Homo sapiens: one gene and its partners. Changing the gene in region 5 together with the main gene of any one other region gives a genetic interaction. Each region holds a gene or a part of one and is shown on either strand. Other genes may lie near its edges. The genes, in order: CNOT1, SPAG7, ACTL6A, GTF2E1, UBA2, PAFAH1B1 and COPE.

What was found.
Region 1: changes in UBA2 (region 5) and CNOT1 together harm fitness less than expected from each alone (positive genetic interaction), as found in Homo sapiens cells (one large-scale study listed by BioGRID).
Region 2: changes in UBA2 (region 5) and SPAG7 together harm fitness less than expected from each alone (positive genetic interaction), as found in Homo sapiens cells (one large-scale study listed by BioGRID).
Region 3: changes in UBA2 (region 5) and ACTL6A together harm fitness less than expected from each alone (positive genetic interaction), as found in Homo sapiens cells (one large-scale study listed by BioGRID).
Region 4: changes in UBA2 (region 5) and GTF2E1 together harm fitness less than expected from each alone (positive genetic interaction), as found in Homo sapiens cells (one large-scale study listed by BioGRID).
Region 6: changes in UBA2 (region 5) and PAFAH1B1 together harm fitness less than expected from each alone (positive genetic interaction), as found in Homo sapiens cells (one large-scale study listed by BioGRID).
Region 7: changes in UBA2 (region 5) and COPE together harm fitness more than expected from each alone (negative genetic interaction), as found in Homo sapiens cells (one large-scale study listed by BioGRID).

The regions. Positions count from the first base shown.
Region 1 is NC_000016.10:58,525,327-58,528,826, forward strand, and holds part of CNOT1 (CCR4-NOT transcription complex subunit 1), read right to left. Parts: intron 3,323-3,500; coding exon 3,149-3,322; intron 2,780-3,148; exon of another isoform or gene 2,597-2,779; intron 813-2,596; coding exon 663-812; intron 34-662; coding exon 1-33.
Region 2 is NC_000017.11:4,958,726-4,961,771, forward strand, and holds the end of SPAG7 (sperm-associated antigen 7), read right to left. Parts: intron 2,129-3,046; coding exon 2,061-2,128; intron 1,823-2,060; coding exon 1,734-1,822; intron 1,594-1,733; coding exon 1,509-1,593; intron 1,387-1,508; coding exon 1,297-1,386; intron 1,192-1,296; coding exon 1,035-1,191; intron 919-1,034; coding exon 809-918; 3' UTR 501-808; downstream 1-500.
Region 3 is NC_000003.12:179,576,426-179,579,925, reverse strand, and holds part of ACTL6A (actin-like protein 6A), read right to left. Parts: intron 3,307-3,500; coding exon 3,200-3,306; intron 3,165-3,199; exon of another isoform or gene 3,103-3,164; coding exon 3,013-3,102; intron 1-3,012.
Region 4 is NC_000003.12:120,749,244-120,752,743, reverse strand, and holds part of GTF2E1 (general transcription factor IIE subunit 1), read right to left. Parts: intron 2,222-3,500; 5' UTR 2,192-2,221; coding exon 1,744-2,191; intron 1-1,743.
Region 5 is NC_000019.10:34,452,381-34,455,880, forward strand, and holds part of UBA2 (SUMO-activating enzyme subunit 2), read left to right. Parts: intron 1-1,879; coding exon 1,880-1,973; intron 1,974-2,063; coding exon 2,064-2,176; intron 2,177-3,500. UniProt on the Homo sapiens protein: The heterodimer acts as an E1 ligase for SUMO1, SUMO2, SUMO3, and probably SUMO4. It mediates ATP-dependent activation of SUMO proteins followed by formation of a thioester bond between a SUMO protein and a conserved active site cysteine residue on UBA2/SAE2.
Region 6 is NC_000017.11:2,600,154-2,603,653, reverse strand, and holds part of PAFAH1B1 (platelet-activating factor acetylhydrolase IB subunit beta), read right to left. Parts: intron 1-3,500. UniProt on the Homo sapiens protein: Regulatory subunit (beta subunit) of the cytosolic type I platelet-activating factor (PAF) acetylhydrolase (PAF-AH (I)), an enzyme that catalyzes the hydrolyze of the acetyl group at the sn-2 position of PAF and its analogs and participates in PAF inactivation.
Region 7 is NC_000019.10:18,902,388-18,905,887, forward strand, and holds part of COPE (coatomer subunit epsilon), read right to left. Parts: coding exon of another isoform or gene 3,480-3,500; intron 3,243-3,479; coding exon 3,189-3,242; intron 2,466-3,188; coding exon 2,384-2,465; intron 1,037-2,383; coding exon 881-1,036; intron 1-880. UniProt on the Homo sapiens protein: The coatomer is a cytosolic protein complex that binds to dilysine motifs and reversibly associates with Golgi non-clathrin-coated vesicles, which further mediate biosynthetic protein transport from the ER, via the Golgi up to the trans Golgi network.

The DNA of each region.
Region 1 (3,500 bases), on a different chromosome or scaffold from region 5:
GAGGTTGTAGCGATTCCCAGGTTCATTGGATACCTTAAAATGAGCAAAACAGAACTCCTTATGCTTACTCCTGCAGAGGACCAATTCTAGCACCAGTATTTCTAAACCCTTCTTACACCTTCATGGAAAGGCCAAACATTTATTGTGATTCACTTGCTTGAATTTGTGAGGTTATTTAACAAACACACAGATGCTCCAAAGGTGGTTGTATCAATAAGAGAAATGTGATTTCCCTCAGGAAGCCGAAGCTCAAGGCACAGCTCTAAAGTAAAGTTTATAAAATCAAAATATGCACTGTGCCAATTAAAGATTTGGAGAGAAAGTTGTAGTTGCATGGCATATACAGACTGTAAATATATAACTTTCCAAAATATCCTATAGAGAAATGTAAATCAGCATCCAGGTATTCAGAAAAATCCTAGGAGTACCAACAGCTAATGACTGTCTGTGGTCTACTCTTCTAGTGCTGTCTTGTCCAAAGCTGTAGCAAAATATCACTGATTAAATGAACTAGTAAAATACGTAAATCCAGTTAATCAACCTCACCCAATTGATGGAAATGACAATAAAAGACTAACTCCCAAATGGACCACACACAGGACCATACATAGAAAGTGCTTTATATGGAAGACGTAGATGAGTTTTAAGCCAAACCAATTAACCTGTAGGTTGCTGCGCAGATCAGACAGGAAAGTGACTGGTGATCGAGTTTTAAGATAGGAATCCAAATCCTTTTTGAACTGAGGTGGCATTACTCCAGTGAAATTGGTGAGAATCCGGGGAGCAATGTTAATTTCACTCAACATGTCCACCTGCCACAGATAAAATGCAAGAATCACAAGCAGAATCATTTTTATTAGTAAATTACATCTATGCTTAAGTGGTGGGACTGTTTTTCTAAAACTATATACACTATAAATGCCTTGAAGAGCACAGCTGCCACATTTTATTAATCAGTCTTTCTTTCTTTAGAAGAATCTTGGTTCAAAATGATAAAAATTTCCCACTCTATAATGTATTTCCTTCCCAGAGGCAAGATACCTTTTGGGCAAAGGTCTAATTTGCACAACTAACTGATTTTTCTTGGACTTCGGTTTCAAAATAATAATCCGGAATAAGATTCCTCACTCACCAAGAGTCTTTGAAAAGAAGCCCCAGCAAGACCAGACATCACACTTACTCCTTAAAAAAAAAAAAAAAAAAAAAAAAAATTGAAGCCGGGCGCAGTGGCTCACGCCTGTAAACCCAGCACTTTGGGAGGCCGAGGTAGGCGGATCACCTGAGGTTGGGAGTTCAAGACCACCCTGACCAACATGGAGAAACCCCATCTCTACTAAAAATATAAAATTAGCTGGGTGTGGTGCCTGTAATCCCAGCTGCTCGGGAGTCTGAGGCAGGAGAATCGCCTGAACCCAGGAGGCAGAGGTTGCAGTGAGCCACAGCTCGCGCCATTGCGCTCCAGCCTGGGCAACAAGAACGAAACTCCGTCTCAAAAAAAAAAAAAAAAAAAAAAATGCATGTGTCAGAAAGAGTAGAGACTACATCTAAACTATAGCTGGGCACTTCTAGTGGTGTGCACCTCTAGTCACAGCTACTCTGGAGGCTGAGGCAGGAGGACGGCTTGAGCACAGGAGCCTGAGGCTGAAGTGCACTATGTTCACACCTGTGAATAGTCACTGCCCTTCAGCCTGGGCAAAACAACGAGACCCCTGTCTCTTAAACAAACTATAGTAGCCATGTCAGGGTGGTGAGATTTTAAGTGGTCCTCTCTCTCCTTTATTCCAACAACTTACAAAAAAATACAGTGGGTTCTCCATACCCTTAGGTTCCATATCTAATTAACCTCAAATCGAAAATATGGGGGGTGAAGGTAGAGGTAGATGATGGGGTCAATAAAAAATAATACAACAATAAAGGCCGGGTGCAGTGGCTCATGCCTGTAATCCCAGCATTTTGGGAGGCCAAGGCAGGCAGATCGTGAGGTCAGGAGTTTGAGACCAGCCTGGCCAACTAGTGAAACCCCGTCACTACTAAAAATACAAAAAAAAAAATTAGCCAGGCATGGTGGCGGGCACCTGTAGTACCAGCTACTTGGGAGGCTGAGGCAGGAGAATCACTGGACCCCAGGAGGCGGAAGTTGCAGTGAGCTGAGATTGCGCCACTGCACTCCAGCCTGGGTGACAGAGTGAGACTCTGTCTCAAAAATAAATAAATAAATACAAATAAATAATAATACAACAATAAAAAACACAAATTTTAAAAAGTTATTAATATAGTTTAAAATAGTTATTTCCATAATAGCATTACACTACATTAGGTATCATAAGCACTACAGATGTCATTTAAGGGGATATGCAAAGGTTATATGCCACTTTACATACAGGACTTAAGCATACTTAAAATTTGGTGTCCCAGTGGGTCCTAGAACCAATCCTCCAAGAATAGCAAGGGACCAAGGAACAACTGCACAAGTGCACAGACACAAAACTGTGAAATATGGAGACTATGGCAGGGCGTGGTGGCTCACACCTGTAATCCCAGCACTTTGGGAGGCCGAAGCAGGCAGATTACTTGAGGTGAGGAGCTCAAAACCAACCTGGCTGACATGGCGAAACCCCATCTCCACTAAACACATAATTAGCCAGGTGTGGTGGCGAGTGCCTGTAATCCCAGCTACTTGGGAGGCTGAGGCGGGAGAATAGCTTGAACCAGCGAAGGGGAGGTTGCAGTAAGCCGAGACTGCACCACTGCACTCCAGCCTGGGTCACAGAGTAAGACTCTGCCTCAAAAAAAGAAAAAGATTACAAAGGTCTGTTTGTTCTGCAATTCTTTGCCATGTGGGGCACACCCAGCAAATGACTGCCCCAACACCTAAGCTGTGGTTCTGTAAATAGAGCTAAATTTAATATCAAAATTAATATGAAAACTAGCAACTAGAAAAATGCTGTGAACCAATATTCACCAGCAACAGCAATAGCAACAATATCATACCTTCTATCAGGCTTAATAACATTATTTCCTTTAAAGAGTACCCTTAACTAATAGTGTGCGTGTTATGTTGGGTAGGAAAGTGCTGAACAGTCTACTTATCAGAGAAAGGACTGAAATATTAAGACATAAGTTTTCCTTTAACTAGTTGGAACCTTACCTTTAGATTAGGAGTGAATGGGTCGGGGAGCCTCATGTTTCTTGGAAAGGCACTCAGGATCAAATTTCTTAACTGGATACAATTAGGTGGGATCACATCACAGAACCCATAATGGTAATCACAAAGGAACTCTGGGAAATCATGCAAAAGAACCAGCAGCACTCTTAAAGTGCCCTATTTTTAAAAAACAAGAAAAATATTTCCACACTAAGGAAAATGGAGTAACATTTTCCTATTGTAACTTAAGCCCCCCACCCCCCTCAAAAGAATGAAGTATACTTTAGTAACATTTCTTAAAAAGTTTTAGGCTTTAATTAACATTATCACAGATGATTTATCAAATATTTCCATT
Region 2 (3,046 bases), on a different chromosome or scaffold from region 5:
TGAGCCACTATGCCCAGCCCGATTGCACTCTTAAAATACAGCATCTTACAAAACCCTCTGGGCCGGGCACAGTGGCTCACTCTTGCAATCCCAGCACTTTGGGAGGCTGAGGCGGGCGGATCACCTGAGGTTAGGAGTTAGAGACCAGCCTGGCCAATATGGTGAAACCCCATCTCTACTAAATGTACAAAAAATTACCCGGGTGTGGTGACACATGCCTGTAGTCCCAGCTACTCAGGAGGCTAAGGCAGGAGAATCGCTTGAACCCTGGAGGCAGAGGTTGCAGTGAGCCGAGATCACACCACTGCACTCCAGTCTGGGCAACAGAGAAAGACTCTGTCTCAAAACAAACAAACAAACAAAAAACCTCTGATAGTTCCAACTGGCCATCTTTAACCTACACAAACAGCAATTTTATGCTGTTCAACTGAAAATTATTCCCCTTCTTCTCTACCAGTGGTTCCAGGACCCACCTTTCTGTGTATAAACAAACCAGGACATTGGGTTAAACAGTATTTATTGAATGTAAAGTACCCCAGCCCCATGGGGAAGAAAATTCCAAGAACGGGGAATAATACAGATTAAATACCCACCTGTGCATTCACACTCTCACACACACACACACATGCCACGCACATATCCAAGCTCCAACGGTGACAAATCAAACACCTGTTTTCCCCCAGCCTGAGGGACAGCTGGTAGGAGGTGGTTCAGAGGTGGGGCTCCAGGATGGGCTCTAATAGCAGCAGCCTTGTCTCTCCCTGCCCCCTGCCCTGCCCCAGGGGTCAAAGGGAGCTGGGCGGGGCGCCTAGGAGGTTGGCGGCAACTCTTCCCCACTCTGCCGCAGACGCTTCTTGGCTCTGATCTCATTCATAGCCTCTTCAATGGAGCGTGTGTCCCTCTTATTGGCCACGGGCACTAGGGGCAGAGAGGAGGGTAGGGCGGGCCTAGAAATCCGTACCTCAGCCTCCACTGCCCTCCTGCCGCATCCTATGCTCCTCTCCCAGCCACCCCCAGCCGCACTGTGGCCTCACCACAGCCGTAGGTCTTATTGGCCTGTAGCATGTGGGCTGCGTCTTTGGCTGCTCCCTTGCCGATGAGGTGGCTGTACTTGTCCTTGTAGTCGCTGGCAGGGCTCACCACCACAGGCCCCTGCTGGGCTGCCTCCTCCTCTTGCCTCTGGGCCAGCTCCTAGGGGTGAAAGTGGGGGCACTGGTGCTCAGGGCCCCAGCCCAAACCCCCACCCCTCCCAGGTGGTGGGCTTCTGGACCCCAAGGGCTGCAAAGCATAGCTCACCTTCAGCTTCCGCTTCTCCTCAGCCTTCTGGGGGTCCCATTCCTCTCCACGACGGTAAGAGTCTAGCTCTTCATCTGAGGGTGCAAACTCCTGAAGAAGAGCAGAATGATGGGGTCAGAGTCCATACAAATGTTTCATTTCATTCCTTGGTCGGGGAGGGGGGATAAGGCTACAAAGGGGAGAGGAGAGAATGAGGAATTCAGGCCCTTTACCTTTTTGAAGATCATGACATAGCGACAGTCATCATCTTCCCCAAAGGAGAAGGATGTCAGGCCAGCCACTTCCACCACATCATGTCTGGGATGGGATGGCAGAGGGGAAAGAGCATCTTGAGCCAGGAGCGGGCCTAGTGCCCTCCTCTGGAGGAGCCCCCCGCTGGCCCTTTCATGCCCCGCTAGCCACCCATTTCCTTCCTCCCCCAGCCCAGGGACACTCACAGTATGCTCCTCTCGATCTTGTTCATTGGCTGAAACTTTTTCTTGATCTGCCCACTGTCTTGAATGAAATCTGACACCTCCTTCTCCATCTTGGGAGAGGGGAAAGGAAGCAGATATGAGACAATGGCTCCACCCAAGTACCCCTCTCCCTAGCTGAGCCTGGGCCCTTCTACGCCTCCCCAGCACCCTCCCCAGCCTCCAAGCCACTGGCTTCCATGCGTCACCTCTCTCAAGACATTTTCAGCAAAACTGAGTCCTCAACCTTCCAATTTTAACTTATTGGAAGTCCTTCCTGAGTCTGCCTTTGATCACTCCAGTTGTTCTCACCCTTTTACGAAACTCCACTTTCTGTTGTTTCTCTTGCTCTTGTAGTTTCTTCAGGCGGGCGGCCTGTTCTGGGGGTGAGAAATGGCAACATGAAGCCAGGGCTGGAAGCATGGGTGGGAAAGGTTTCTAAGGCTTCAAGTGAAGTGTGGTGTCCACTGGGAGGTGTCAGGCTGGGAAGGTAGGATTAGCGTTTATTCATCAAGCATTTATTGATGTTTATTCTATCTAATAGTCCCCCTTATCCACAGGGGTTCATTCCAAGACCCTCAGTGGATGCCTGAAATTGTGGATAGTACTGACCCCTATACATACTATGTCTTTTTCTATACATACATGCCTATGATAAAGTTTAATTTATAAATTAGGCACAGTAAGAGATTAAGAATAATAGACCAGGCATGGTGGCTCACGCCTATATCCCAGCACTTTGGGAGGCCGAGGCAGACAGATCTCCTGGGGTCAGGAGTTCGAGACCAGCCTGGTCAACATGGTGAAACCCCATCTCTACTAAAAATACAAAAATTAGCCGGGTGTGGTGGTGGGCGCCTATAATTCCAGCTACTGGGGAGGCTGAGGCAGGAGAATCGCTTGAACCTGGGAGGCAGAGATTGCAGTGAGCTGAGATCGCGCCATTGCACTCCAGCCTGGGCAACAAGAGTGAACTCCGTCTCAAAAAAAAAAAAGAGATGGCCGGGTGCAGTGGCTCACACCTGTAATCCCAGCACTTTGGGAGGCCAAGGTGGATGGATCATGAGGTCAGAAGATCGAGACCATCCTGACTAACACGGTGAAACCCTGTCTCTACTAAAAAAAAAAAAATATACAAAAAATTAGCTGGGTGTGGTGGTGGGCGCCTGTAGTCCCCACTACTCGGGAGGCTGAGGCAGGAGAATGGCGTGAACCTGGGAGGCGGAGCTTGCAGTGAGCAGAGATGGCGCCACTGCACTCCAGCCTGGGCGACACAGCAAGACTCCATCTCAAAAAAA
Region 3 (3,500 bases), on a different chromosome or scaffold from region 5:
GCATGCACCTGTAGTCCTCCCTACTGAGGAGGCTGAGGCAGGGGGAGCCCAGGTGTTTGAGACTGCAGTGAACTACAACTGCACCACTGCACTCCAGCCTGGGTGACAGAGAGAGACCCTGTCTTTATTTATTTTTTGAGACAGAGTCTTGCTCTTGTCGTCCAGGCTGGAATGCAGTGGCACAATCTTGGCTCAATGCAACCTCCATCTCCCATGTTCAAGCAATTCTCCTGCCTCAGCCTCCCAAGTAGCTGGGATTACAGGTGCTCAGCACCAAACCCAGCTAATTTTTGTATTTTTAGTAGAGATGGGGTCTCACCATGTTGGCCAGGATAGTCTTGAACTCCTTGCCTCAAGTGATCCACTGCCTTGGCCTCCCAAAGTGCTGGCATTACAGGCATGAGCCACCGTGCCCAGCCAACCCTGTCTTTAAAATGTGTGTGTGTGTGTGTGTGTGTGTGTGTGTGTGTATATGATATAAATAAAATAATTTTTAAAAAACCTGTTAGATATGATCCCTCTCATAGTAAATTATGACTCATATAATTTTACTCTTAGTTTCTTTTGCTGGATACACATTAATTTCTATCAACAGAGTAAGCAAACAACCTACAGAATAGGAGAAAATATTTGCAAACTATGTATCTAACAAAGGTCTAATACCTAGCTTCTATAAGGAACAACAACAACAAAAAGCCTCATTAAAAAGTGGGCAAAGGACACTAATAGACACTTCAAAAGAAAACATACATGCGGCCAACAGCATATGAAAAAAAGCTCAATATCACTGACCATCAGATAAATGAAAATCAAAACCCCAATGATACACCATCTCACACCAGTCAGAATGGCTATTATTTATTATTAAAAAGTGAAAAAATAGGGCCGGGCACAGTGGCTCACGCCTGTAATCCCAGCACTTTGGGAGGCTGAGGCGGGTGGATCACAAGGTCAAGGGTTAGAGACCAGCCTGGCCAACTAAGAATACAAAAATTAGCCAGGTGTGGTGGCACACACCTGTAGTCCCAGCTACTCAGGAGGCTGAGGTAGGAGAATTGCTTGAACCCAGGAGATGGAGGTTGCAGTGAGCCGAGACTGCACCACTGCGCTCCAGCCTGGGTGACAAAGCAAGACTCTGTCTTGAAAAAATTAAATAAATAACAGATGCTGCTGACACGGCTGCAGAGAAAAGCGAACGTTTATTCACTTTTGGTGAGAATGTAAATTAGTTCAACCATTGTTGAAAGCCATGTGGCAATTCCTCAAAGAGCTAAAAACAGAACTACCATTTGTTTTTTTTTCTTTTTTGAGATGGGTTCTCACTCGTTACCCAGGCTAGAAGGCACTGGTACAATCACAGCTCACTGCAGCCTCGACCTCACAGGGCTCAGGTGATTCTCCCACCTCAGTCTCCCAAGTAGCTGGGACTAAAGGTGCACACCCCCACACTTAGCTAATTTTTCTTTTTCTTTGAAATGGAGTCTCACTCTGTCGCCCAGGCAGGAGCGCAGTGGCACCGTGTTGGCTCACTGCAACATCCATCTCCTGGGTTCAAGCAATTCTCCTGCCTCAGCCTCCCAAGTAGCTGGGATTACAGGCACCCACCACCACACCCAGCTAATTTTTTTATATTTTTAGAGACAGGGCTTCACCATGTTGGCCAGGCTGGTCTCCAACTCCTGACCTCAGGTGATCCACCCGCCTCGGCCTCCCCAAGTGCTGGGATTACAGGCGTGAGCCACTGCACCCGGCCCCACTTAGCTAATTTTTCTGTTTTTGTAGAGACAGGGTTTTGCCATGTTTCCCAGGCTGGTCTCTAACTCCTGAGCTCAAGGGATCCACCCACCTCAGCCTCTCAAATTACAGGCGTGAGCCACCATGCCTGGCCCAGAACTACCACTTGACCTGGCAATCTCATTACTGGGTATATACCCAAAGGAATATAAATCAGTTTATCATAAAGACACATGTATGTGTATGTACACTGCACCACTATTCACAATAGCAAAGACATGGAATCAACTTAAATGCCCGTCGGTGGAAGACTGGATTAAGAAAATGTGGTACATACAGACCACAGAATATTATGTAGTGAAAAAAAAAAAAAAAGAATGAGATCATGTCCTTTGAAGGAACAGGGATGGAGCTGGAGGCCATTATCCTCAGCAAACTAATGCAGGAACAGAAAACCAAATACAGCACGTTCTCACTTACAAGTGAGAGCTAGATGATGAGAACACATGGACACAAAGAAGGGAACAACAGACAGTTGGACCTCCCTGAGGGACGAGGGAATGGAGCAGAAAAAATAACTATTGGGTACTAGGCTTAGTACCTGGGGGACAATAATCTGTACAACAAACTTCCGTGACATGAGTTTACCCATTTAACAAACCTGCACATGTACCCCTGAACCTAAAGTAACAGTTTTTTTTTGTTTTTTTTTTAAGAAATTAAGGCGTATCTGTGGCATCAGGTTGTTTTACTAACCTCTTCCCCATCAGTAAGCCATATGTTCAGAGATGGGTTTTTAGTAAAGAGAATCTCTCATGGGTTCCTTGTTCTGAACAAAAACACATTTTTGATATTGCTGACTGATGCTGGGAAACAGAACATAACTGAGACATACTAGTAGGCCTCTACAAAACCTAAAACCATTTTCTCAGCCAAAAATGTTCAGAATAGCATAAAACCAAAATTCCTTCCAGGTCTCACCATAGTAATCCAAGTGAGTATGTAGTAATTTGTAGAGATTTGTTTGGCAAGTATGAAAAGCATGCCTCTCACAGAAAAGCTCTTTTGTTAGTAAAATATCATTAAAAATATAGAGTGTGACCCTGAGATCATGTTCTATTTAATCTTCAAAATGTATTTAGTAATAAAAAAAATAAAGAGCTTGAAAATATAAAGTGCCCATATTTTACTCAAGGATTTACAGCCTATATATAACTTTTTTTAATACTCATGCAAAAAGCCTGTAACATTTTTGTAAAGAGAATGAGGGTTACTTACATTACACATATAATTGTGCCAAGACCTCGTAACCTGAGGCAACTTCTCTTTTCTTTTCCAGTTTGCTGGAGATCCTTCACGAACAGCTTCCTGAGAGTACCAAGAGATGCTAGGTTAATGGAGTTCACTTCATAGGGGTGGGGGAGCTAGAAGTAAGTTCTACAAAGAAAATTCAATAATTACTTACTTTTGATGCAATCATATATGGAGGAACCAATTCAATATTCATTTCTTGGAAGAGTTCTCTGCACTGCATAGTAATAAAGTCTCCAGCAAGAGGGGATTTCACAATGCCTATGAAACAGATGAAACAAGGCTAAGAGGGCAGTAAGTCCAAACTTCCTTGAACGAATTTCCTCTGTGGGTGTATTTATGTGAATAACTTTTTCAGGTAGAATGAACTGAACTATCCTTCAACACATAAATAAAGCCATGCATCAGTTTTAAATATACATTATATACTAAAGATTTTTAACATACTTAAAAAA
Region 4 (3,500 bases), on a different chromosome or scaffold from region 5:
TTCATAAAATACTTTCATGCCCTCTACCCTAACTCCTTGATTCAAGTCACCTTGACTGTACTGGATGGAATGTTAGGCCATCTCTTCCACAGGCCATCTATTGAGTCAACTAGTTTCATTCAGAATCCAGGTGAAATTCAAGAGTATCATGATCAGTCTCCCAAATACTGATATATAAGTAGTGGAATCATCTCCTTTTAGAAAGTTTAATTAAATTAATATGACTCAAATGACAAATAAATGTAGTAGAAGCATGTTATTTTAGATTACTCTAAGGGACTGGATAACACCTTCTACTGTGGTCAAGAGTGATGAAGCCTCCACTGTTAAAACCAACATCTGTAGAGAATTACAAAACCAAGAACCCAGAGCTCCTGTAAGAAATCTGTTAGAGTGAATGGCAAGAATCATGAGACTTTTCTAGTCTATTTTGAAGAGCTCCAGATATATTCTACAACCTTCCTCTATAGAACACTCAAGCAATTCTCATACCGAGGATGGTTAAGACTTTCTTATAATCAAGATCTCTCCTTGTGGAGCCCTTTCAAGGTAAAAAGCTCGGCTCAGACAAATTAAATGTTTAATACAATTGTGAATTCCTTAAATCAGTTTTCATCCAAAATCATTGCCTCACAGTAAATAAGAAAAAAAGGTCACAGATTGCTTCTGGCTCTTTTTGTCAATAATCTTAATTTATATTGGGGTTATTTCCCACTTAAAAATTTTTTTTAATTATTTAAAATGTACCATATATAACATAAAAATTAGAAAATAAAACATACACAGAAATCTGTAATTTTGCACAACCAAATATTTCATGGGTCAAAGTTTAAACTTTCAGACGAAGTTTTTAAAAAAGCAGATCTATGAACTAAAAAGTAGCCTATACTCCTGAATTCAACCATAACAAAGGGACTTAATCTAATTTAATAGCACTGAGTCCTTCTATAGATTTTTACCTGTAGAAAATAAGACAAAATTGATCGAGTATTTAGCAAAACTAGTCTCTTTTTTATTGTGTAAACAGATAACAAGATAAAATAACTATATAACTCAGAACTTTAAAGTTTCTCATGTTTATGCTAGACATATTGTATTTTCAGATAATGCATGCTTTCTAAATTGTGTTATGAAAAATCCTTAAAACTATTCAATCAAATCAGGCCAATTATATATCTTGTTGACAATTTTCTTCCAACAATAATGTGTATCTAAAGGACACTAAATGTCTTATCTTGGAAAGAATTCCCCTCTTATTTCATCTAGCTAACTCTTACTATCTTTTAGGTCTCAAATGTTAACTTCTTCCAGAGGCCTTCCCCAAATCCAGATTATATGCCCTAGTTATATACTCCTGATACCACTTTCTACTTCCACTAACAAAGCATTTAAATACACTGTATTGCAACTGTCTAGAGGTCAAAAATAAAATTAGAACAGCCTCAAAGTGGTAGAGAAATCAACCCTTCAGATTAGGCTGCAGTTGTAAACAAGGTGGGGTGGGCAGAGGCAGGAGGGCCATAAGTGAGAAACTCCCTTGTAAAGGAGAAACGCTTTGCAAAGGCTTCTCAAAGTAGTGCGACAGCCAAACAGGACAGTAAGACTGACTGTATGCTGTGATTTACACTGATCCATTCACTTTTATAATAATATATATGATGGTTTAAAAATTAGATGAATCAATTTAAGAAAAAAGGTAATACACACTTTATTTTAAAGATTCACAAACTGGATAAACCTCACCTGTCATAGGATCAAAGAGCTGATTAGCTTCTAAGTCTGTGAAAGTACTACTACAGACAGGACATTTGAAGGAAGCCCGGTTGGTCGAATCTCTCTCATCGGTCTCAATTCTTCTTCTCATGTGGTCCAGTTTATATTTTACCACATTAACAAGAGTACGATAATTGATGAAGTAGTAGTTATGGCGAGTGGTTTTCCCGTCTGCAGCAGTCTCTACCCTCATTCTGCATTTGATAAACTTGTCTCCCTTTAAATTATTCAAAACTGATCGAAGTTGCTTCCGATCAAACTTGAGCAGCTCCAGCATATCCTCCTCTTTCACACAGGAGTTCCTGATCAAGATGTCCAAGGCCAAGGCATGCTCAATGCCATAAAATCCCCGGATCACATACTTGGCTAACCGCTTCAATGCTGCTGGAACTTCAGTGAGGACATCTGGGTCTGCCATCTTTAGCAACGAACTCCAACTTTAAATATACTGAATTCAAAAAAAAACAGAAAATTAGCCAGGTATAAGAACATGGTAATCATATCCACTATCCTTGCAGTGCCAGAAAAGTACCCAAAGTGTTTAAAAAGATTTCTAATACCTAAGCATTTAACAGAGCAGAACAAGATTTTCCTCTAGAATGCACAAAAGATTACACCCAAAAAGCTTTACATATTTCTTAAATGGCTACTTTTATGATCTATAGTGTGTTTGATTAAAAAGTAACTTTTTATTTATAAAACAATATATTACGTCAAGTCTACTTTACTTCAGAAGAGAAACACAAAAAAAGCTACATGAAATGCTCACTATTCTTTGGGAATGCTGGAAACCCTGAGAAAACTAGCAGTTCGCATTTCCTAAAAGTGTCTTTGTTTCCTTTCTTGAGTAAAATTTTTCTACCAAGATTCTAGGATGTTTTACATAGTCATGCTTTCACAATAAAATCACAACAAACCAATAAACACATGAGTAATCACCACCTGGGGTGTTTGACAAAATCATTAACTGTTGTAAAACTGAAAGAAAGTAATACTTAGATCCAGACAGTTTTACCAACCTTGAAAAATTGAATCTGATAATCAAGGAAAGACCATCCAGTCCTTAAAAAGGTAGAAAATGAGGGAGGGAGAGCAGCCCAAAATATTCTTAAATACTGGATCCCTTGACAAAGCAGAAACTAAGTGTATCTCATTTCCGTACCATGACCCAGAAAGCTGTCTTCTCAAAGCCCACATTGGCATATAGTTTACTTTAAAAACCTGGGCTTCGGGCAGAGACACAACCAAAAAGGAGAATTTTAGACCAATATCCTTGATGAACATTGATGCAAAAATCCTCAATAAAATACTGGCAAACCGAATCCAGCAGCACATCAAAAAGCTTATTATCCACCATGATCAAGTGGGCTTCATCCCTGGGATGCAAGGCTGGTTCAATATACGCAAATCAATAAATGTAATCCAGCATATAAACAGAACCAAAGACAAAAACCACATGATTATCTCAATAGATGCAGAAAAGGCCTTTGACAAAATTCAACAACTCTTCATGCTAAAAACTCTCAATAAGTTAGGTATTGATGGGACGTATCTCAAAATAATAAGAGCTATCTATGACAAACCCACAGCCAATATCATACTGAATGGGCAAAACCTGGAAGCATTCCCTTTGAAAACTGGCACAAGACAGGGATGCCCTCTCTTACCACTCCTATTCAACATAGTGTTGGAAGTTCTGGCCAGGGCAATCAGGCAGGAGAAGGAAA
Region 5 (3,500 bases):
AATTATGTTGACTAGAAAAATAACGTGAATATATTAAAGTGAAATGTTTCTTGTGTAGAGTAGATGTATTCATAGAAGTCATAAAATCATTTGGAGAAAACATCTCATTGGCCTGATTTGCCCTTGAAAATAGTAAGATTGTCTTTGAATTGAAATAGTTATTACTATTTCAGAGGTCTGAAAGACAGAGCTCTTGATACAAAAATGAGATGTAATTATTCTTAGAAGTTAAAATCATATTTAATAGTACTCTGCAGTTATGTCATCTTTTGAGATTTGATATTATGAACTAATTTTACTTAATTTTAATTGTAATCAGTATTTTCTATGGCTAAAAGTGTTTTATCTCATGAAGCTTGTATGTTCCTGTGGTGTTGAAGATTAGTCATGGGTCTTAAGGCATAAAGGCCAATTTTAGAAACCTAAGAAAAATTTGTGTGTACATATTTTGAAACTTTGGTTGAATCAGACATCTAAATACACTAAAATGAAGCTAGTATATTTAGATTCTTGGGATTCTTATAAACATTAGTCTCTTGGGTTTTGTGATATTTAAAGGGTAACTTTTCATATTTTCATTGTTATTGTTATGCTAGTGATTTGGGAAGTTTGATTAGTGCACAGAGGCTAAATAAAGAGCCCTTGGAATGGGAATTGTTATCCTCTTGAGTAAAGTCCACATGTAATGGGTGTGATAAGACAGCTGCTTAGGGAAGACACTGTGTTGAGTATTCAGTATTCTTAGTCCTCACCACACCTTATGAGATGGGGATATAATTTCCCCTATTTAATAGATTAAGAGATTTTGACTCAAGGAATTTGACTTGCCTGAGGATTCACAGCCAGCCAATAAATACATAAAGAACTATGCTCTCAGTATTTTTTCTTCTGTTCTGTGATGCCTCTGAATTTTAGACCAGGGTGATATCTTCTCAGTTCAAAGCAGGAAGCCTTGCTGAAATCTAGAGACTAGGATATAGTCTCAGGAAAAATACAAATCGTAACAGGAAAAACTTGGATTGTATTGCCTTATTTGAAGAAACAGCATATGTGAGAGAGTGGTGCATATGAAGAGAGTTTGGCAAAGGGGAGTGAAAAAGAGTCATCCAGGTTTTTCTGAAGTGTTAATGAAACAGCTTTTTTTTTTTTTTTTTTTTAATTGAGACAGGGTCTCACTCTGTCACCAAGGCTGGAGTGCAGTGGCATGATCTTGGCTTACTGCAGCCTCTGCGTCCCGGGTTCAAGTGATCCCGCCACCTCAGGCTCCCGAGTACCTGGGACGACTTTAGGTGTGCGCCACCATGCCTGGCTAATTTTTTGTGTTTTTGGTGGAGATGGGGTTTTGCCACGTTGCCCGGGCTGGTCACAAACTCCTGAGCTCAGGCAATCTGCTTGCCTCAACCTACTAAATTGCTTGAGACTACAGGCATGAGCCACCATGCCCAGCCTAAAACAGTTTTCTTAAATTGCTCGTCTTTTGGCCTGGATTCTGTGTTTGTCCAGCAACCTTCTCTTTACTGATGAATGGAACCAGGAAAGGGTTGCCATTGTCAGTGAGTGGAATTGAGATTCCGGTGTATACAACTGAGTCTCCGGTGCCTTTGTTTAGGCTGGAGTGAGTTCCTAGAAGCTGGTGATTCTTGGTGTTCTTGTCAGACTCATTACTGGACCAGAGGAGCTGATGATGAGACCCCACCCCCTACTTAACCCACCTCCATGCTACTGTGAGGTCCTAGCTGACTGGTCTTTCCCTCAGCAACCTCTTGTTCTAGTCGAAAGTCTATAGTATTATAAACACGTGAAAGTATTGTTCTGAAAGTAATGCTTCAAAATAGTCAATTTGTGGAGAAACTTGTTAAATTGTTTAAATTATTGGCAGGATGACCCATCTGCAATGGATTTTGTCACCTCTGCTGCAAACCTCAGGATGCATATTTTCAGTATGAATATGAAGAGTAGATTTGATATCAAATGTAAGTTATTTGTACTAAAGTTGTATCACTAAAACCTTGAAGTTGTTTTTTAAACAGTGAAACATACTCATCCTTTTTTTTTTTTCCCAGCAATGGCAGGGAACATTATTCCTGCTATTGCTACTACTAATGCAGTAATTGCTGGGTTGATAGTATTGGAAGGATTGAAGATTTTATCAGGAAAAATAGACCAGTGCAGAACAGTGAGTATTTCTGTTTGCATTTTTATGCAACCCCCCTTAAAAAAATCATTAATTAAAAGTACATTAAACAGATAATTTTTAAAATGAAAACAATAAAATTGGTTTAAAGCAATGGAAAAGTAATTTTTCTGGTTACCAAGTGAGTGTGTGTTTAAGCTTCCTGGAAATTGCAACAAAAAGGAAAAATTAAGAAGTTGCTTTTGCTTTTAACATTTCCAATTTTACTGAATTCTTCGAAGAATTCATTGTGCGGTCCTTATACTAAGAAGATGTTTCAACTGTTTTTCAATTCTGAGAGTGCTATATGGGTTTTAAAATTTGCTTGGTCATTTTATAGTCCCCTGTTCAGTCATTCTCCTATTGAGTCATTCTTTTCAATTTTATTGTATAGTTTTTGATAATGTTAATGTCTGAGATCTTTATGGGTGAGTCTGCTGTCATTTCTGCTATTTCTCGTAGTGATTTGCTTGTATGGTTTATGATTTTTTAAAAACTGAATGTGTATTAGAATTGTGTCTGGTAATTCTTTAGGGACCCATTGTAGATGTATTTCTTCAAAGAGCATTTGTGGTTATTATATTTGGGTGCTTGGGGCACTGCCAATACAGGACCACTTTTAAATTAGGATTTTCAATACCTATGTATTCAGACCACAAACCTGCACGTGCCCTATGTTATTGTCATGAATTATATGGGAAGATACTCCTCCCCCTCCACTAAGCACCAAGTTTAAGATCATTTTTATGGAGAAAGTATTTTTCTCCTCTCTTTTCAGGTCCTTGCTTTGTGTAAGGGTCTCCTGTTTTAAGAGTTCCTACCTTAGTGGTGGGTGGGGTAGGTGTATCTCTTAAGGCTAACACTACTTGGATGTTCTCTTTGGATTCCTTCCTTCGATGTTGTGTCTGCAGACACTTCGCTTTCTTACCAGCTCAAGAAGGCTTCCTAGGAAATACTAGCCAATACTTTGACTGTTGTTTAGGTTCTCCTTTTTATCATTGAAATAAAAAGACCTGTTTACCTTCAGAAATTTCAAAAAATATCTAGTTTGCAATGGTACTGTTATTTTGCAGTGTCATTGATGCACACTTACTTTTTTTTATCTTTTGAGACGGAGTCTAGCTCTGTTGCCCAGGCTGGAGTGCAGTGGCACAATCTTGGCTCACTGCAACCTCCACCTCCCAGGATCAAGCGATTCTCCTGTCTCAGCCTCCTCAGTAGCTAGGATTACAGGTGCATGCCACCATGCCGGCTAATTTTTGTATTTTTAGTAGAGACGGGTTTCACTATGTTGGTTAGGCTGGTCTCGAACTCCTGACCTCATGAT
Region 6 (3,500 bases), on a different chromosome or scaffold from region 5:
TATACATATATACATACTTTTTTTTTTCCTTGAGACAAAAGTTTTGCTCTTTTTGCCCAGGCTGGAGTACAGTGGTGCAATCTCAACTCACTGCAACTTCTGCCTCCTGGGTTCAAGCAATTCTCCTGCCTCAGCCTCCCAAGTAGCTGGGATTACAGGCATCTACCACCACGCTCAGCTAATTTTTTTATTTTTAGTAGAGACGGGGTTTCACCATGTTAGCCAGGCTGGTCTCGAACTCCTGACCTCAGGTGATCCACCTGCCTCGGCCTCCCCAAGTGCTGGGATTACAGGCGTGAGCCACCGCGCCTGGCCTGTATTTTGAAAAATACAAAAATTACCCAGGCATGGTGGCGCGGGCCTGTAGACCCAGCTACTCAGGAGGCTGAGGCAAGAAGACTGCTTGAGCCCAGGATTTGCAGAGTTGTAGTTAGCCACTGCACTCCAGCCTGGGCAACAGAGCCAGACCCTGTCTCAAAAAAAAAAATCATTCTTTTGTCAAAATGTATTCACTGCACTCTGTTCTGAGATACTACAAGTTGCTCTAGACAGAGAGGACAGCAGGAGTAGAATCACAAAGATCACAAAGTGGGGAGGGAGAAAGCATATATATATTAGAGTGTGAGCAAGGTGGGGCTTGATTAGAAATGAAACTTGAAGTGACTGAAGACCTAGCAAACTGTGTTAAAGTATGTGGACTATAGGAAAGAGGGAGTCAGCACAGTACGGTGGCTGAAAGCCCCAACTGTGGAGCCTCAGTACCTGAGGTTCAACTTTCAGCTCTGCTACTTACAAAGCTGTCACAAAGGGCTAGCTAAATTCTCCCAGAATGTTGTGAGGAGTAAACGAATACTTGTAAAGCACTTAAAACAGAGCCTGGCGTATTAGTAAGTGCTATGTAAATATTTGTTAAATAAATACAAAGGGAGCCAAGGGAGGGTTCTTTTTAAGTAGGGAAGTGTGATATGGTCAGATTGCATTTTAGATAGATGACTGGGGACTATGTAGCAGAAAGACGTTAACCGGACAAGACTGAATTTAGAGAGACGATGTGAAATTAGTTGGGTAAGAGATTATGTGAACTATGATGGTAGTAGTAGTAATGGTAAGTATGGATAGAAGGGGACTAACTCAACAAATATCGAGGAGGTAAAATTGGCAAGACAAGGTAATTGATTGGATATAGAGGAAGAAAGAAGAGTCAAGGTTGAGTCCCACGTAAAGTATTATTTCTAATGTTTTTAAAAGTAATATTCTTCTAAGAACTTTGGATCCTAGATGTCTTCTGTGCTAGTGACATTTGATGTCTTGGGGTTGTATTATGATGCTTCCATAAAAATGCGAACCACAGGCCTGTTTAAACTCTCAAATTGATAGGCCCTCGCTGTTTTGTTTTTTTTTTCAGTAGGTGGAGATAATTTCTCTTTAAGGACATACCATTATACAGAACACTTATTTAGCCCAAGTCGAAGAGCCAGAAAGCTTGAATAATGATTTTATTAAGTGGGGTTTTTTTTTATCTTTACGTTGGGATTTGTGATGATAAAGACTATAGCATCATGGTAATACTGTAAAAATTTTTAAGTGACTGCTGAACCATTAAAGACAAATTAAAATTTGTTAATTCTGTTATTTCCAATTTTTTCACTGTTCATTCATATATGATAAACTTTGATAACCAGAATATTTCATTACTTATTGATCCCTTTGACAAATCTTAGCTCATTTCTACATTTGTCAACTTTAAAAATATTTTTTCTTAGGCTGAGAGCAGTGGCTCATGCCTGTAATCCCAGCACATTGGGAGGTAAAGGTGAGCAGATGGCTTGAGGCAGTTTGCTTAGGCTAGGAGTTTGAGACTGGCCTGGGCAACATGGCAAGACCTCACCTCTTACAGAAAATAGAAAAATTAGGCCGGGCGCCGTGGTGCATGCCTGTAATCCCAGCACTTTGCGGGGCCGAGGCAGGAGGATCACCTGAGGTCAGGAGTTCAAGGCCTGCCTGACCAACATGGTGATACTCCATCTCTCCTAAAAATAGAAATATGAGCCAGGTATGCCGGCAGGCACCTGTAATCTCAGCTACTCGGGAGGCTGAGGCAGGAGAATTGCTTGAATCCAGGAGGCAGAGGTTGAAGTAAGCCAAGATCATGCCATTGCACTCCAGCCTGGGCAACAAGATTGGGAGACTCCATCTCAAAAAACAAAAATTAGCCAGGTGTGGCTGGGCACGGTGGCTCATGCCTGTACTCCTAGCACTTTGGGAGGCCAAGGTGGGCAGATCACGAGGTCAGGAGTTCGAGACCAGCCTGGCCAACAGAGACCCCCCATCTCTATTAAAAATACAAAAAACTTCACTGGGCAGGGTAACAGATGCCTGTAATCCCAGCTATTCAGAAGGCTGAGGCAGGAAAATCACTTGAACCCAAAAGGCGGAGGCTGCAGTGAGCCAAGATCGCAACACTGCACTCCAGCCTGGGCGACAAGAACGAGACTCAGTCTTGAAAAATAAATAAATAAATAATAAATAAATATTCATGTATGAGTTTAGTCAACAGCTTATTTCATTTTCTCTGACAATGCTAAATGTATAGCCTTTCCTCACCCATAAAAAGTTAACCAAGGCCAGGCATGATAGCTCATGCCTATAATCCTAGCACTTTCAGACACTGAAGTGGGTAGATCACCTGAGGTCAGGAGTTCGAGATCAGCCTGGCCAATATGGCGAAACCCCATCTCTACTAAAAATAAAAAATTAGCCAGGTGTGGTGGCACATGCCTGTAATTCCAGCTATTACTAGGGAGGCTAAAGCAGGAGAATCGCTTGAACCCAGGAGGCGGAGGTTGCAGTGAGCCGAGATCGCGCCACTGTACTACAGTCTGGGCAACACAGCGAGAGTCCGTCTCAAAAAGAAAAACTTAACCAAAATACTAAATAATCAAAACATCTGACTCATTTATCTCCATCTTCTTTCTTTTGTAGTTAGCATATTTTTTATAAAATAAAAATATGAAAAGAAATAGATAAAACACTAGTATATCATAGAACATATTCTTTCTTTTTTTGGTTTTTTTTTTTTTTTTTTGAGATAGTTTCACTCTTGTTGCCCAGGCTGGAGCGCAATGGCACGATCTCGGCTCACTGCAACCTCCGCCTCCCGGGTTCAAGCAATTCTCCTGTCTCAGCCTCCCAAGTAGCTGGGATTACAGGCACCCACCACCACACCTGGCTAATTTTTGTATTTTTAGTAGAGACAGGGTTTCACCACATTGGCCAGGCTGGTCTGGAACTCCTGATCACCTTCTGCCCGCCTTGGCCTCCCAAAGTCCTGGGATTACAGGCATGAACCACAGTGCCCAACCCATAAAACAAACTCTTCTATCTTTACCTTAGATTAAAAATGGATTGGGCTGGGTGTGGTGGCTCACACCTGTAATCCCAGCACTTTGGGAGGCCAACTCGGGTGGATCACTTGAGGCCAGGAGTTCTTTAGTAAAAAT
Region 7 (3,500 bases), about 16 Mb from region 5:
GGCGTGGTGGCTCACGCCTATAATCCCAGCACTTTGGGAGGCTGAGGCGGGTGGATCACCTGAGGTCAGGAGTTTGAGACCAGCCTGACCAACATGGCAAAACCCCGTCTCTACTAAAAATACAAAAATTAGCCAGGCGTGGTGGCAGCCGCCTGTAATCCCAGCTACTTGGGAGGCTGAGGCAAAAGAATCACTTGAACCCAGGAGGCGGAGGTTGCATTGAGCTGAGATCACACCACTGCACTGCAGCCTGGGTGACAGAGTGAGACTCCATCTCAAAAAAAAAAAAAAAGAAGAAAGGAAAGGAAGGAAAGGAAGGAAAGGAAGGAAAGGAAAGGAAGGAAAGGAAGGAAAGGAAGGAAAGGAAGGAAGGAAGGAAGGGAAAGAAGGAAGGAAGGAAGGAAGGAAGGAAGGAAGGAAGGAAGGAAGGAAGGAAGGAAGAAAAGACTGCAGACATCAGGCAGGAGATGACTGCAGCCACCCTGGGCAGGCAGCGCTCTCTCAACGAAGAGCTCCTGTCCACAGCACACTCTCCCCTACATAAGTACGGGGAGTGTCTCTCCAATACTGAGTATGTACTCAGGTGAGGGGTCCCACTTGCAGGTCCCGGGCCAGGCAGCTGAGGTGACAACAAGGACGGCTCAGACCACTGAGGCCCAGGCTGCCCAGATGCCCCATTTCTGTGAGGCCGGAATCTGGATTTCTTTGCAGGTGAGATCCCTGCTTTGTGGATCTCGCTGCTGACTGGGCCTTAGAAGCCCTGTGGGGCCACACGCACACCCAGGGGGTCTCTGCTACACTTGTTTCTGTCCGCCCTGACCCCACCCTCTGGCCGCCTGGCCTTCCCTCCGTCCCCACTCTGGGACAGGCTTGTGCCTACCTTGTCTAGCGCCTCCTGCAGCAGGCCCTCAGCGGCCTCCCAGCGGCCCTGGGCCATGTGGCAGGCCGCCTGCCCATTGAGCAGCAGCAGGGTGGGCGAGCACTTGTCAGCCATCTCCTGGAAGATGTAGTAGGCATCCTGCAGCTTCTCACCACCCTGCAGGGAGGGTCCCGCATCATTGCCTGTGCCCCTGCTGCCCGGCCCTTCCCCCGCCAGCCCCCTCCCCTAGCGGGGGGGACTCCAGCACTGCACAGAGACGAATCTGGTGTGCCCGGTTCAAGGCACAGCCACTCCGCCATGGGGACTACCCGTAACTTGTACTCTGCTGATGGGGCCTAAAGACTCGTGGCCGCCTCCTGCCCCACCTCCCACCCAGCTCCCGGAGTGCTGAGTACACAGAGGTGGAATCTGGGGCTTCCAAGGCCTCAGTGCACAGGTGGCTGGCTCAGGGTCTGAGTGGGGACCACTGGGTCACTGAGCACGTCAGAGGAGGAGGAGTCAGCTCTGTGACCAGCAGCCCTGACCTGTCCACTTGCTCAGAACAGCAGAACACTTGCAGGGGGAGCCTGAGGCCAAGGCAGGCAGTGAAAACAGCCCAAACTACCCGATAGGTCTGCCGGGGCCTGTCCTACCATACTAGACGGTCACTGGAAGTCTGTCTGGGTGAGGCTTCAGCCCCGTGGCGGGCAGGGACGGGGAGCACATTTTTTTTTCTTTCTCAGAGTTTCACTCTTGTTGCTCAGGCAGGAGTGCACTGGCGCGATCTTGGCTCACCGCAACCTCCACCTCCCGGGTTCAAGCGATTCTCCTGCCTCAGCCTCCTGAGTAGCTGGGTTTACAGGTGCATGGCACCAAGCCCAGCTAATTTTGTATTTTTGGTAAAGATGGGGTTTCTCCATGTTGGTCAGGCTGGTCTAGAACTCCCAACCTCACATGATCCACCCGCCTCGGCCTCCCGAAGTGCTGGGATTACAGGCGTGAGCCACTGCGACCAGCCAGGAAGCACATTTTAATAGGCCCACACAAAAGAGTGGCTCAGAAGGGGGCCAAGTCCCAGAAACCAGGAGAGGGGCTGTTGCCGGGCGGAGGTGCCCAGGCCTGGGAGCTGAGGACATCTCCACCGCTGCTATGGGAACACTGAACTCCGTCCCTGGCTGGCGACCAGGACCCTGGAGAGCAAAGCTGAGTCGCAGAAAACCCCAGGAAGCCCTGAGGGGAGGAGGGCCTGCCAGGCCAACCCAGACCCTCGAGTACCCCTGTGCCTCAGGCTCAGGAACCCGTCCCCGCCCCCACCATCTCTTCGCTCTGGCTCTGGCCAAGTCGCTTGGCTGTGAGAAGCCCGGAATGGAGTCAAGGCTGAGTTATGCCAGGCTGGCAGGGGCCACGGCCTGATCCTGGAGCCCCACTGGAGTGGCCAGCAGCCTACGCACAGGTGGGGGTGCCCACAGACCCTGCTCAGCCAGGTGCCCGCAATGCCCACCCACCTCATGGCCTAGGGCTCACCGTGGCCAGGCTGACCCAGGCAGTGGCGAGCTGGGTGAGGGTGGCATCCTCGTCCAGGTCCTGCATTCTCTTCAGCTCCTTCCTGGGGCGGGGACAGATGACAGAGGGGCTGAGTGGCCGAGGGCCCTGGCCTGGCCATCCCTGCCTTGTCCCCACTTGGGGCCCACCGGAGCCTGGGGATGGCCCCTGCTTTGTGCTCCACTGCATGCTCATACCCCACGACTAAGTGCCCGAGCCACCCTGCCCGTCTGACCACGTGCAGGCCCTGGGAAGGTGGGACTGGGGCCAGCTATGGCCCCCCAGGGTGGCCACCACAAGGTAGAGCTCAGGAGAGACTCACTCCATGGAGGATGGAACGCAGGGAAGGGCAACGGAACTACAGTGTGAACAACTCTGAGGCAAGGGCTTTGGAAACGGCAGCAGGGGAGTCCTGGACCCCCAGCCATGGCCTCCGACCTGGTGATGCCACGTGCAGGCCCCGCCAGCCCCACGGCACAGTTACAAGCTGGTCAAGTAACATGTTGCTCCAGGCACAACCTCCACTCTCCCTCCATGAAGCCCACCCTCACCCTGTGGGAGAGGCCTGCCACCCACTGCATAGAGAGAAACTGAGGCACAGAGAGCCATGGCCCTCCTCCCTGGCAACATACTGCAGGGAAGGGCTGAACGACAGCAAGCCACCCCCATGGAAAGGAAAGACAACAAGAGTAATGACAGCACCACAGACGCTCTGGGCTGTGACGCTCTGGGCTGTGACGCTCTGGGCTGTGGCTCAGTGCGGGTGGAGAGGGGCAGGAGGGCTCACCGGGCGAGGTCCAGGCGGTCCAGCTTCAGCAGGATCTGCACTGTCATGGCTGTGCTGCAGGACAGGGCGAGGGGGCGGTCAGCGGGTCGCCACAGACACATTGCATGGCCGCTCCACACCCAGGGCTCACTGTGTGTGTCTGGGATGTTCCTAAGTCCTGTGCTTAGGACCACCAGCCCCGCCCAGCAGAGGAGGACACCCTCACTCCCACATTTCACCGCTCAGCTTCCTCAGGCCCAGGAGCTCTGGGGGAGGTACCCAGGATGGGGTTTCAGGCCCCGGCCCACTCACCGCCCATCTGGAGAAGCAGCC